Homo sapiens: one gene and its partner. The protein of the gene in region 1 purifies or fractionates together with the protein of each later gene. This does not show direct contact. Each region holds a gene or a part of one and is shown on either strand. Other genes may lie near its edges.

What was found. Proteins that work in one complex are often made in the same cells at the same time.
Region 2: the proteins of RTN1 (region 1) and TMEM70 purify together in Homo sapiens (affinity purification with mass spectrometry; 2 studies listed by BioGRID and IntAct, with this or other methods). This does not show direct contact.

Annotation. Positions count from the first base shown.
Region 1 is NC_000014.9:59,741,763-59,748,783, forward strand, and holds part of RTN1 (reticulon-1), read right to left. Parts: intron 4,720-7,021; coding exon 3,946-4,719; intron 1-3,945. UniProt on the Homo sapiens protein: Inhibits amyloid precursor protein processing, probably by blocking BACE1 activity.
Region 2 is NC_000008.11:73,972,050-73,979,210, reverse strand, and holds the start of TMEM70 (transmembrane protein 70, mitochondrial), read right to left. Parts: upstream 3,017-7,161; 5' UTR 2,930-3,016; coding exon 2,720-2,929; intron 456-2,719; coding exon 350-455; coding exon of another isoform or gene 342-349; exon of another isoform or gene 336-341; intron 133-335; exon of another isoform or gene 40-132; intron 1-39. UniProt on the Homo sapiens protein: Scaffold protein that participates in the c-ring assembly of mitochondrial ATP synthase (F(1)F(0) ATP synthase or complex V) by facilitating the membrane insertion and oligomer formation of the subunit c/ATP5MC1 through its interaction.

The sequences.
Region 1 (7,021 bases):
ATAATACAGACTCAGGCCCTGTGCATTTGCTATTCCCCCACACCTGAGGTCCCTCCTAGCTTCTCTCTGAACTGTGGGCTCCTTCTGCTCATTCAGATTTCAGTTCATGTGTCATCTCCTCAGAGGGGCAGTCCTTGGACCCCTCACACCCAACCCTCTATCACTCTTTCTAGTGCTCACACTATAAAATTACACTGTTTATTTATGGGTTTGTTTTTTATTGCCTGTTTCCTCTGACTAGCAGGTAAGCTGTGCAAGGGCAGGGACCTTGTACATCTTATTTACTACAAGGTCTCAGTGGCCAGTGCATGTCTGATGTATAGAAGTCACTCTAAATATTTTTTGAACAAAAGAATGAATTTTAAAAATGGGTAGGAGAATCATAGATCCCATCAATGCAAGGAAATAGCAATGGTAGTTTTCAAATTTAAGTTGATTTACTTTTAATTGCTCATTTCTTCTTGAGGGAAACTGGGGTGTTTTAAGGATGACTTCCTGATTATTGTCCTTTTTGAGGCTAATAGCTCACATAACACCCAGGACCATCATAATATCCCTCTTGGTGTTTGTGTCAGAAACAACATGGTGCTCCTGGTCAATGTCTGGGGCATCAGGGCATTTATTATGTTTTCCTAAATTGCTTCACTTTTTTCATGACTGATCTTGGCTTAAAAGAGACTTCCAGTATTTCAGCTATAACAATTCTCACCTCTCCACCTCAGTGTATATTATGTAGTAAAAATAGGTAAGTATGTTGGAGAACGTTACAAAATGGAATAATCTATTGGAATTGGGAGAAATATAAATATATTAGACACCTTGCTTAAACATCAGCATCTGTGGCTAAAGCTAACCCAAATTAGAATTTCTCTTCAGTTATTCTCCAGATTTGATGATTTCCTTATTTATTAAACAATGATAAACTGGACCCTTTTTTGCTTAACATGCTTTCTTTTTCCTCAGTTTCTATGTAGAATTATGTGCAGTTCTCAATTTTTGTTTTCAATCTGTTGTCACTGGAAATGGCAGAGTGACCCAAGACTCAACAGATGTAATAAAGTCCATATCCTCTACTGTCTATGGGCACAGTGTCACATGGTGCCAGGGGTCATAAGAAGATGGGAAGGGGGTCAGAAACCTCGCAGGATAAAAAGGGCAGGGAGAAAGGCTTCAATGAGAAGCTGATTCTTCCTGTTAATTTCATTCTTATCTGTTGTCATATGACTCTGGTATTTTGATGTGGGATGTATATGGAGAGAGGAGCTGAACATAGGAGAGAATGTGTAATGGGCCATTTTCTCTTTCCTGAATATGCCTTGCTTAGAATGTTTATTTGATTGCAGCTGCAGAGACAATCATTGTCCTAACCCCATACTGTCAAGTGGGCAACCCAACATCGTAAAACTCCAATATCATGTGAGCCAGATCTGCCTTTGTTTTCTCTTGAACCTTCTCCAGAACCCAATTGGGCCATGGCTACTTAAAAATGGAAATTCCCTAAAAATTAATGGACCCTTTGTCAAGTCTTTGCAAACTGTAATTTTTACATGAAGCATGTGCCGTGTAAGTAGACCTATACTTGCTAGGGCATTTCACTATTCCTGAGGACTGGCTGAAGTTCTTGTGGACTGACTACTGGACAACCCGGGAGCTCTGTAAAACACAGCTTGACTATATTAACTTACATCTTCAGAACACCAAGTATCTTTACGGCAGGAAATAATAAAAGAGTTTTACTATGCATTGCCAGAAAGAGTACAAGGAAGCTTGGAAACTCGGATATGTTCTGACCTCATGTTTTAGGCAGGGGCAAGACGTATCTAATCCACCTGGAGCCTTGGTTTTCTGATTTGTCATTACTACCCAAATCTCAATTTACATCTTAAGTGAAGTTCACTGGGCCCTCACAACTCCATGTCCATGCAGCTCCTCAGACTGGAAGGGCACCCTTCCCTTCACCTCTTTGTTTCCCCTGTTCCTCTGAGAGTCACCTGTGGTCCCAGTTCACCTGGGGAGCTGCTGGACTCCAGGGCTCGTCAGCACCGTACAATTCCCTTTCTCAGGACACCAAGCACACTGGATTGGGACTGCTTCCTTGGTCGTCTGGTCCCCTGGAGGCAGGGACTGGTTTTTGTTTGTTTTTTATTTTTCGTTAATTCCCCATCAGTCGTGCCTCATAGAGTACCCAACCAAAAGAAAGTATGTAGAAAGTGTTTGTTGCGTGAATGAGTAAATTTGAAAATCAGGGACCTGGCGCAGTGAATCTTTAAGACCCTTGGAGTTCTATGGTTGAATGAGTCTGAAGGAACTTTGGGGAGAAGGAATTAATGCTAAAATCTATAGGGAAAGAAGATAGGAGGAACTTTCATTAATTCTGTTCTATTCCAACACTTGGATTTGTACTATACCATCAGGGTTTAGAGCAATCGCTCCTCCTCTACAGGCTTTGCTTCCATTTTCAGAGTTTACTAGAAGCTCTTTCACCTGAGGTGCATACCAAAGCTCTTTGGGATATGGTAGAATGCCAGTCACCAGGGGCAGGGGAAGGTTTGAGGACCTCTCACTGTCCTCTTCATCTCGATGCCTCATGGACATTTGAGAGAGGTGGAGATGCAAAGGCTGGAGAGAAGAGAGTGGCACAGGGTGGGGTGAGGAGTTTCCTGCTGCCTCTCTGGCCTTTAGCCAGGGATATAAGAGGCTCCCTTTGTGTTTGACAGAATACGCATGAGTGCTGTTTAGTATCCTGCCTTCAGTCACAGAAAGAGAATGTTCAAGTTAAAAAAGACCATAGCCTAATGAAGTCTAAACTTTAAAAATTTTAATGAAGTACATCTTTTGGTTTCAAAAATAAAATTATATGCAGAACTTCAATAAACTAGAGATATAAAATGACAGTGTTGAGATTGAAAGGGGAAGGGAGGAGTTTGCTTTGCTTAGGTTTCCTCTTCCTGTCTGTGCCATCCCTAAAAGATCCAGAAGTCCACCTTTTCCTTCCCTTTAAGTGTACAGACTTAGAGCTAGGGACAGGAATGTTAAATGCCCCGGCCAAGGTGCTTCAGGCAGTCTACAGAGAACAGCCAGTGTGCTCTCCTCATAATGTCTCCAAGAGACCTGTGCTATAGTTTGAATGTCCCTTCCAAAACTCATGTTTAATCTTAATACCCAATGTGGCAGTATTGAGAGGTGGAGCCTTTGAGAGGCTATGGACTACGAAATATTGAACGATGAAGGCTCTGCCTTCATGAGTGGATTATCCCACTCATGGATTAATGGATTAAAGAGTTAACGGATTAATGGATTATCATGGAAATGTGACTTGTGGCTTTATATGAAGAATAAGAGAGACTTGAGCATAGCATGTTAGCATGTTCAGCCCCCTCACCATATTATACCCTGTACCCACTTGGGACCCTTCAGAGAGTCCCCACTAGCAAGCCAGAAAGCTTTTACCAGATGCGCCCCTTTGACCTGGGACTTCCCAGCTTTCAGAACTGTTAAGAAATAAATTTTGTTTCTTATACATTACCCTGTGTCAGGTATTCTGTTATAAGCAACACAAAACAGACTAAGACAACCCAGATCCTAGCCGAAAGCTAACTGAGAAGCAGGCAGTACTGAATTCTCTGCTCTGGACAGTAGGGCTGCATGAGGATTTTAATGTTTCCAGTATGTCATTCTAACATCTCCCCTCAAATAAAGAAAAAAAAAATTTTACAAAGAAAACCTGATAGGACTTTAAGAGAAATCCCAGATTGCAACCTTTGTACAATCAGCAACAAATTGAAAACTTTGAATATTAATTAAATTAGTTAAACTAAATGAAATTTAAGGGGTCCAGATAGTAAAGTATGTTGAATGAAAATTGTCATTCCTTAATATTTGTTTTAGGGATTGAGATTTCCATATGCTGGGTTTTCCTAAGTCAAGCAATAACAGGGCCTTTACCTGTTCCAGAAGATGGAGGGGTGATAGATCCTGGGCTGTCGTCTTCAGGCTCCGAGACAGTGACAGTGGGGACTGTGTCAGGACTTGGCTTTAGACATATATCTTGCTTCTCAGGGGTCTTCTCTTGGGTAGTGGTTTCAACAGAAGGTTCTATTTCCGTCAGTGTGATTTTGACAGGGGTGGTGATCTGAGGAGCCCTGCGCTGTTCTTCAGAGAGATCATCTATGTATGGAGCAAATGTGGATTCTTCCAATAAATGGTCCTTGATGATTTTTCCCTCCACAGGAGCTGGTTTGTCAGGTTCACGGACTCCTTCAGGTTTAATTGAGATGTCAGTGTCTTTATTCTTAAAGTCCAAGTCTTTATCTTCCAGCTCGGGGTGATGTTGTTCTTGGTGCTTCACCTCCTCGGGTCTGGTTATGTCAATGTATTTATAGGCCTCTGCTTTCATCTGGTCCAGAGGGTCTGCTAAGATCTTGTTCACTTCCGTGGACTCTGCAGGAGTCATCTCTATTCCAGAATCAGAACTAAATAAGCCACGAGACTCTATCCCAGGCACATCTGGTAAGGAGGGGCCGGGTGTACCCAGCTCCTCAGGGCTCTCTGAAATGGTGACGTGGCCATTTTCCTTCTGAAGAATTCCAGTAAAATATGTAGAATCCTCCTGAGGTGGATAGCAGATGTCAGAAATGAGAGATGTGTAACACGATCCTTCCCCATCTTTTGATGTTGTTGAGAAGGTGTGGTCCATGGCACTGGAAACACCTGCCACACCTATGAATCAAAGCAGCAGCAGACAGTGAGTGGGTGCTTGGCGTCAGCTCTCTCTCTTGTCTAACCCACCACCCACCCCTGCCTGGTGAAGACATGACATCCTTTCTCCTTAAGCCCTCGGAGTTCCCTCGGAGCTCCCTCAGAGCACCAGCATGTTAAATTTCCTAATCTCCCCGATAGTCCATACTTGTGGTATTTTTCCAGTAACAGACCCCAGAGGCTCACATAAACTGCCAGGACCAGATAAGTTGGGGACAGATCCTATAAGACTAGGAAATTTATTTTCAACGTCTACCACCTCAACACACAGTGACTTGATCTTAGTATTATTAAAAAGAAACCCTCTTTGTATCTAAAGTATTAACAGCTCTTTAAGTAGAGGTGGAAATTAGGCTACCTCAGGATTGTAACTGCAACAATAGGATAGCTGACTGGGTACAGGAGCTGCTCTTGGAAATTCAATGGCTGGGAGGAGCCTCAAAGAACCCACCTGTCCAGTCCTTTCATTCATGGACTACTGATCCATCCAGTCTCTTTTTCAAGGTCCGCAGAGAAAGGACCTCCTAGCTTTGGGCCTCATTCCAATGTCATATCACCCTAATGGTGTGCTTCCCTGTTTATTTCATCAGTTTTCCCTCTTGTTTTGTTTTCCTCCTCTTTTACTCCTCTACTGCCCATTCATTGCCATCCAGTGATATTCAAAGTCACCCACTGGCAATTCCTTCATTCCACTGGTGGTGCTAAGGGTAAGACAGGTTTCCAAGTTTGAGTCTATAGAATATTTTCACCAGGCTCTAATTCTACTAATACACCAGCCATTTTTTATATTCATTAATAGTGGGCATAGGCCAGGTGCAGTGGCTCACGCCTGTAATTCCAGCACTTTGGGAGGCCGAGGCAGGCGGATCTCCTGAGGTCGGGAGTTCGTAGACCAGCCTGACAACATGGAGAAACTCCGTCTCTACTAAAAATACAAAATTAGCCAGGCGTGTTGGCGCATGCCTGTAATCCCAGCTACTCAGGAGGCTGATGCAGGAGAATTGCTTGAACCCAGGAGGAGGTTGCGGTAAGCTGAGATTGCGCCATTGCACTCCAGCCTGGGCAACAAGAGCAAAACTCCATCTCAAAAAAAACAAAAAAATAGTGAGCATAAAAGGAAAACCCTCCACTGTTTTACTTTGCTGTAAAATTCTACCAGAAGGTATGAAAACCAACCATACCAGAGCATACATTGAGGCGTCACTATATGCTAAGCAGTGGGATTTTTAATCTAATTTTTACAATTGTACAAATTAAGTCCCACACTCTCTACATCTACATACAAACACATTACACACACACATATACACAAACACACACACAGTACGTACAATATCAAAGGTCTTAAGACACACCTGAAGAATAGACTAGAGCAATAACTCATATAAAAGTCATCAAAACAGTGGCAGTAACAGGTCAATAGCTAACATGCGAGTGCTTGCTATGTGTCAGGCATTGTTCTAAACTTTTCATTAATATCAACTCATTTCATAATCAAAGCAATCCTAGAAGGTTGGCAATATTGTTAGGCTCATTTTACAGATGAGGAAACTGAGAAACAAAGGGGTTAAATAACTCACCTAAGATCTTACAGGCAGTAAGTGGTAGAACCAGGATTCACACCCAAGTAACCTGGAAGCCAAGAAACCTCCCCTAATGCGCTTTGCCCCGATTAAGTCAGTCTGTGAGGTTTTTTTTTTTTTTTTTTCCGGGAATATTTACTCAGCATTATTACAAACGAACTTAACTTTTGTCTTTTCCTAGCTTTCTTTTTGGTTGCACAAGCTATTGTTTCTCTACGGGCAGTGGAAAAGCACAAAGCCTCTTCCCTGTTCTAGCACTTTCCTACCTCAGCGGCTTTGCACTAGCTGTTTCCTTTTCTTGGAACTCTCTTCTCCTAGATACCTATATACCTAATTCTCTCACCCCCAAGTCTTTGCTCAAATGTCGCCGTCTTAAGAAAAATGACCCTAACCCTCCATCTCAAATTGCAACTTGCCTTCCCCTCCCCACTCCTGGCAATCCTATTCGCTACCCTTCTCTGATTTTTCTTTTTCCTGTATTGCTTATCTCCTTCTTAAATACTGTATAGTTAACATATGTTTTATGCATCGATTGTCTCCTCTTGCTAGGTGAGCTCACACACACAGCATGGTAAGCTCCATAAGGGCAGGAATTTCTGACTATTTTGCTCACCAATATAGGCACCTAAAACAGGGCCTGATGAATAGTAGGTACTCAATACATATTTGCAAAATAAAGG
Region 2 (7,161 bases), on another chromosome or scaffold:
CTAAAAATACAAAAATTGGCCAAGTGTGGTGGTGCATACCTGTAATCCCAGCAGGAGGCTGAGCCAGGAGAATCGCTTGAACATGGGAGGCGAAGAGTATGGTGAACCAAGATCATGCCACTGCACTCCAGCCTGGACAACAGAGTGAGACTCTGTCTCAAATAAAAATCTAAAAATGCAAAGGTCTCTACATCTTATCAACACACCTCAAGAAAAAAAAATGAAAATCTAATTTTCCTTACGTCTTGTAATTAAGGGATGCCATAACAACAAGTAAGATATGGTAAGGATATTTTTACAATTAAAAGAGAAAAAAACAAAGTAAGTACACCCACCTCCAATTACTTACCAAACACTGCTCGGGCCATATTGCCAGTATAAATTAGCCTTCCATCTTCTGATTTGTCAGATGGCGTATTTAAGAATCGAACATATCCTTCCCAATAAACAGGGATCTATTGAAACAGGGATCATTATGGTCAACTAACCTTCTTAAATTTTTTTAAGTTTTTTTTTTTGAGACAGAGTCTTGCTCTGTCTCCCAGACTGGAGGGCAGTGGTGCGATCTCAGCTCACCATTGCAACCTCTGCTTCCCGGGTTCAAGCAATTCTCCTGCCTCAGTCTCCTGAGTAGCTGGGATTACAGGTGCCCACCACCACACCCGGCTAATTTCTGTATTTTTATTAGAGACGGGGTTTCACCATGTTGGCCAGACTGGTCTTGAACTCTTGACCTCAAGTGATCTGCCACCTTGGCCTCCCAAAGTGCTGGGATTACAGGCATGAGCCACCATGCCCAGCTTAAGTTTATTTTTAAAATTGTAATGCAGGTGCAGTGGCTCATGCCTGTAATCCCAGCACTTTGGGAGGCCGAGGGGGGCGGATCACTTGAGGTCAGGAGTTCAAGACCAGCCTGGCCAACATGGTGAAACCCCGTCTCTACTAAAAATGCAAACAATTAGCCGGGCATGGTGTCTGGCGCCTGTAATCCAGCTACTCCGGAGGCTGAGGCAGAAGAATCGCTTGAACCTGGGAGGCGGAGATTGCAGTGGTCCGAGATCACACCACTGTACTCCAACCTGGGCAACAGAGCACGACTCCGTCTCAAAAAAATAAAATAAAATTGTAATGAAAAGAACTTGTCACATGAGGTGACATAAGGAATTCTCCCAAATAATCTACAGAGTTAAAGAAATAAATTGGCTGACAGAATGGCTTGCCTTAATTCTAGTCACAAGTAGAAAACTGCAGAGCTGGAGTTTGTTAGCTTAGCATCCCAGCTCTCAGGTTTCTAGGTCTAGTGTGACCTTGAACAAGTAAAAATAGTAACAGTTTCTTCTACTCCACTGTTAATGACGACATCATTTCCATTCTATTTAAATGCAACACCTTTTCAAAAAATAAATACATTTAGCTGGTGTAATGGAACACGTCTATAGCCCCAGCTACTGGGGAGGCTGAGGTGGATCACTTGAGCCCAGGAGTTTAAGGCCAGCCTGGGCAACATGGCAAGACCCCATCTCTAAGAAATAAAATTTAATTTTACTAAAATAATTTAAGTAAAATACTCCGCAAACTCACATTATATTTAAAGTCCAGGCCTTTTACAAATACTGCTAAAATATTTATATGATAGTATTAAAGAGATCAAATCTTTCTCTAAAGACCTTGTAAATACCGTGTATCCCCTGGTCCTCTTATTTCTTGACAAGAAATAAAATTTGGCTGGGCACAGCGGCTCACGCCTGTAATCCCAACCCTTTGACAGGCCGAGGCAGGAGGATGATTTGAGGTCAGGAGTTTAAGACGAGCCTGGCCAACACGGTGAAACCCCGTCTCTACTAAAAATACAAAAAAAAAATCAGCCGGGGTGTGGTGGAGCGCGCCTGTAATCCCAACTACTGGGGAGGCTGAGGCAGGAGAATCGCTTGAACCCGGAAGGCGGAGGTTGCAGTGAGCCAAGATCACGTCACTGCACTCCAACCAGGGTGACAGAGCGAGACTTCACCTCCAAAAAAAAAGAAATAAAATTTACTTGAAATCCTACATCAAATTTCAAGGGAACAGAAGCGTTCCCCATACATCTGAAAATGAGTTTCACAGTGTATACACTTCAAAATGTAAAAGGCATGCCTAATTCCTCAATGCTGAAATGTAATTAGATTCCAATTTCCATTTTAAGCATTTCTTCCAAGTTTTAACCAGGTTTGCCAATCCTGATATTTTACAGAGTAGAATTAGAAGACAATTTATTCAGATCAAAATAAAAGAATTAACATCTGCATCCCCCTTTTCCCAGGGACCAAAGTAATTCTTAAAAGTACAGCCACCTCATAAAAGTAGAACAAGCTCAAAGTCAGGTTAACCTGGCTCTTTCGGTTCTATTTCCAGGTGCTGCATCCAATTTTTTGCAAATTAACACTTCTAAGCTTCTACTCAAGGGCAGAAAAGGAACTACATATAGTTGTCACCACAAACCCTCTGGATTTGGAACTACCATAAAAGTAAGCACTTTCCAGCCGTTCTCCTGGACTCGCGGAGGCTGAGGACCCCGGGGCCCTCGGCCTGCTACTTCTGCAAGCCCCGCAGAGGGGGCTCCTCCCGCGCTCCAGCCACGGACACCTGGGAGAGGTCGCGAAGAGCCGCTGGGGCTCCCCAGGCCCGACACGACGCCCGCCCTCCCCGCCTCACTTGGGACACCAGACCTCGGACGCCCTACCTGCGCTCGACCCGGACGCCGGAGAAGGCGCGCGGCTCCCGAAGGCCCCGTACTCCAGCCGGCTACCGGCCCCGAAGGCCCGCTGCTGGAGGACGCCCGGGAGACAGAGGCCCGGGGACCTCGGAGCGCGGCGGCCGCACACAATGCAGTCCTCCTTCCGCAGAGAGGCAGTTCGACCGCCCACGGGCTGCCCAACGCCAGAAACAGCATCACGCGGGTGACGAGCGGCTGCGGACGCCCCAGCTGCACGAGTCCACGACTGCGAGACACGGCTTCCCACCCGACTGCCGCACAAGTGGCGCATGCCCAGCCCGGGACGCCTGACTGGCAGCTGGGCTGCCTGCGCGTGCGCAGAATCTGCCGCCCGCCTGCCGCCCGCCTGCCGCCCGCCTGCCGCCCGCCTGCCGCCCGCCTGCCGCCCGCCTGCCGCCCGCCTGCCGCCTTCCCGGCCGCGCGCGTTATCCGCCAGCTGAGCTGGGAGCCCGCCGCTCTGTCCTTGGCTCAGCGGCTCCTCCTTCCTAGAATTTTACCTTCTTTATAACAGTGTGGAGGGGCAGAGGGCTGTACGAGAATGACAATGCCCAGAAGCCAGGGTTAAATATTTTTTTTTCTCGTGGACGACATCACTAAAAACTGTTTCCTTTGCGGAAAATGATTCTAGCCTGTTGGCACAGAAGAAAGAATATACGATTTGAACAAAAATGAGTGATAACTTAATTGAATCATCGGGTTGGAGGAAAATAAATGGAATTGTTCATGTAATATTGATAGGTGTTACCAGATTTGTCTTCGGAAATCATTCACATCCATATACACATTGATTCATTACTTGTTAAAGAGGTACTGAATCTATTGCCAGGACTGAGCTAGGAGCAGAGGATACAAAATACTAGATTAAACTGGGAATCCACAGTGCTTAAACAGTGGAGGAAAATACCTGAAAATTGGCTAGAATATAATGTAATACAATTGAGACACCGCAATATACAAAATGTGGCTGGCCGTGGTGGCTTACACCTGTAATCCCAGCGCTTTGGGAGGTTTAGGCAGGAAGATCTCTTGAGGCCAGGAGTTTGAGACCAGCCTGAGCAATACAGGGAGACCCCGTCTCTACAAAAAAAAAAAAAAAAAAAAAACCTAAAACAAAAATAAGCCACACATGGTAAGTGTGTGCCTGTGGTCCCAGCTACCCAGGAGGCTGACATGGTAGGATTGCTTGAGCCCAAAGTCGAGGCTTCAGTGAGCCAAGACCACACTACTGCACTCCAGCCTGGACCACAAAGTGACACCGTGTCTCAAAAAAAAGAACAAACAAATGCCACAGAAGTACAAAGAAGAACATGATTAATTTTGCCTCAGAATGTCTTCAGACTGGCTTCACATTTAGCTCAGTCTTGAAGGATGAGCATCTTAGTAATAGAAACACACTTTTGTTTACCACTGCAGAACTATACATGTTTTTGATTTGACATGTTATTTGCACCGGAGAGGAACAAATTCATAGTCTAAAATAATGTGTGGCCAGGGGCGGGAGCTCACGCCTGCAATTCCAATACTACGTGGAGGCCCAGGTGAGAGGATCACTTGATTCCAGGAGTTTGAGACCAGCCTGGGCAACAAAGTGAGACCCTGTCTCTACAAAAAATTTTTAAATTAGCTGGGCATGGTGGCACCTGCCTGTAGTCCCAGCTACTTGGGAGGCTGAGGTGGAAGGATCACTTGAGCCCAAGAGGTTGAGGCTGCAGTGAGCCCTGATTGCACCACTGCACTGAGTGACACAGCTAGACCCTGTCTCAAAAATAAAAATAAAAATAAATCAATAGAATATGATCATGTTGGCAACTCCAAATACTGTCTATTGGGGGGAGTATTCAGAAGGAGATAATGATAATACCTCTATATGGATAACTTTATTTTATAAAAAGTTAGCTTCTACTTACATTTTGTTTATTTTTATTTTAATATTTGTTTTAATAGTAGAGATGGAGTTTCACCATATAGCCCAGGTTGGTCTCAAACTCCTGAGGCTCAAGCTATCCGCCCACCTCAGCCTCCCAAAGTGCTGGAATTACAAGGGTGAGCCACTGTGCCCACCTTTTATTTTGTTTTTGAGACAGGGTCTTGCTCTGTCGCCCAGGCTGGAGTGCAGTGGCACCATCATAGCTCACTGCAGCCTTGACCTCCCAGGCTCAAGTGTTCCTCTCACTTCAGCCTCCCAAGTACCTGGGACTACAGGCCACGTCACCATGCCCAGCTAATTTTTGTATTTTTAGTGGATACAGGGTTTCCTTTTGTTGCCCAGGCTGGTCTTGAGCTCCTGGAATCAAGGGATCCTCCCGCCTGGGCCTCCCAAAGTGTCACAGAACCTGAGCTACCACACCTGGCCTATTTACATTTTAAAAACTCTTCTGTTTAGGGTAATTCACTCACAATCAATATTCACTCTATTATTTTGCTGATATATTTAAAATTTTCACATAAAAATGTTTTTCTTAACTATATTAAGAGAACTCAAATTTTTTATCTTCTGTAAAGCTGTTCCCCCTACAAATACTGTAAGTAAATGAAAATAAAAACTTTTGTTTGATCTATTTCTCAAAATTTCTAAATAGATAAAATCAGATTATAGTCTGAAAACTCTGTACCATAGATTTACATAGAATTGTTATTTATGTTAGATGGATTTTCCAGTTCCAGTAAGTTAGAGACATTTGTTAAATATAAACTAATGGGATTTTAGAATGATTTTAAGGATGTTTTTAGGCCGCGCGCAGTGGCTCACGGCTGTAATCCCAGCACTTTGGGAGGCCAAGGTGGGCGGATCACTTGTGGTCAGGAGTTTGAGACCAGCCTGGCCAACATGGTGAAACCCCGTCTTCACTAAAAACACAGAAAAAAGTCGCCCGGCGTGGTGGAGCACACCCGTAATCCCAGCTACTCAGGGGGCTGAGGCACGAGAATTGCTTGGGCCTGGGAGGTGGAGGCTGCAGTGAGCCGAGATTGCGCCACTGCACGCCAGCCTGGGAGACAGAGCGAGACACCCTCTCAATAAAAAAGAAGGAAAGAAAAGAGAAGAGAAAAGAAAAGGGGCCTACAGCCTCCTCATCTGCACCTCCATGCCTGTCCTCCCCACCAAACTCTACTTCGAGCTACCATTACAGCCAAAAAATCTTTGTTCTGATTTCTGTAAAGGCTTTAAAAAATTTATCCAAGACAATCTCCTTGATTATTGCAACTAATTATAAAAAACCAATGTCTTTTATCTACCAAATTAACTAAATTAAACAAAAAAAAAGCCTTTCTGGCAAGTCCTCAGTTCAACAAACTCTAGATAGCCTGTTATCTATTTTTTGAGCACACAAAGTGCCTCGTTGAGCACCTTGTAATGTTGTCTTGGCCCTACATACATTCTCTTCATGCCACACTCCTGGAAAACAGTAGAAGGTGAACTTTATTTAGCTGTTTCAGCCTTCCTGGAAAGGTGCCTGTATATCTTACCATAGGAAACGCGGGGGGGTGGGAAGCGGGGCGTGGAATGAGAAAGAAGTTCCCAAAAACTGAGTAACGGTTTGGCAGGCGCCTGGATTTTCTGTGCGTGAGCTCCGGATCCAGGACAGCTGAGCTAACCCAGAGGCAAAGGCAGGACCCTCGCGGGTGGAGTGGGGGACGTGGTTAGTTTTCAGTTAACATTGAATTCTACCGGGAAGAGAGGAAATGAGGCCAGCCGATTGCGCTAGTCGTTGCTGTGCTGGCTCTTCAGCACGCACAGCAACTTTTCACCAGGGACAGATGCTGCTTCATAAAGAGTACGATCTCGTTAGCAAAGAAACCGCCCTCCCACGTTTCAATCTTTCCTCAGCAGTCTCCCACCTCCAGGCGTAACCCTAAATGAGAGGTACGGACAGTCTCTGTAACCACCAAAATCTTAACACGCAGTGCGAGAAACTACAAGTCCCAGGATGCAGGGCTGCCTCGGTCCCAACGCCGACGGTATCCACCAGAGAAACTACAAATCCCAGAATGCAGTGCTCTCTCGGACTCCCGAGAGCCTCTCTAAGGATGCGTCTTTACAGCAATTGGATCAGGGTCTGCGCTGCATGCTGGGAATCCAGAAGAGCTAGACTCGGATTGGTCGAAATTTGCCGGTTGCGTTCATAGGCTGGCCTACTATAGGGGAAAAGAGTAGGGCGCTACGCCCTACCTCCAGACGGAAGTGAGCGACACACTCTGCGTCCTCGCCTCACCAGGTACGGATCTCCCGCGCGTCGCCGAAAGCGGCTCTGACCCAGCGGAAGTAATTCTTTCGACTGCCCCGGAACCCACCGGAGCAGGCAGCTGGGGGTGGGGGGGCGGCCCTGGGATAGGGGCTGTGGCAGTACGCGGGGACCCGGCTGCGGTGGCTGCGGGACTGACGAGTGAGTCTCGGGCTGGGGCGGAAACGG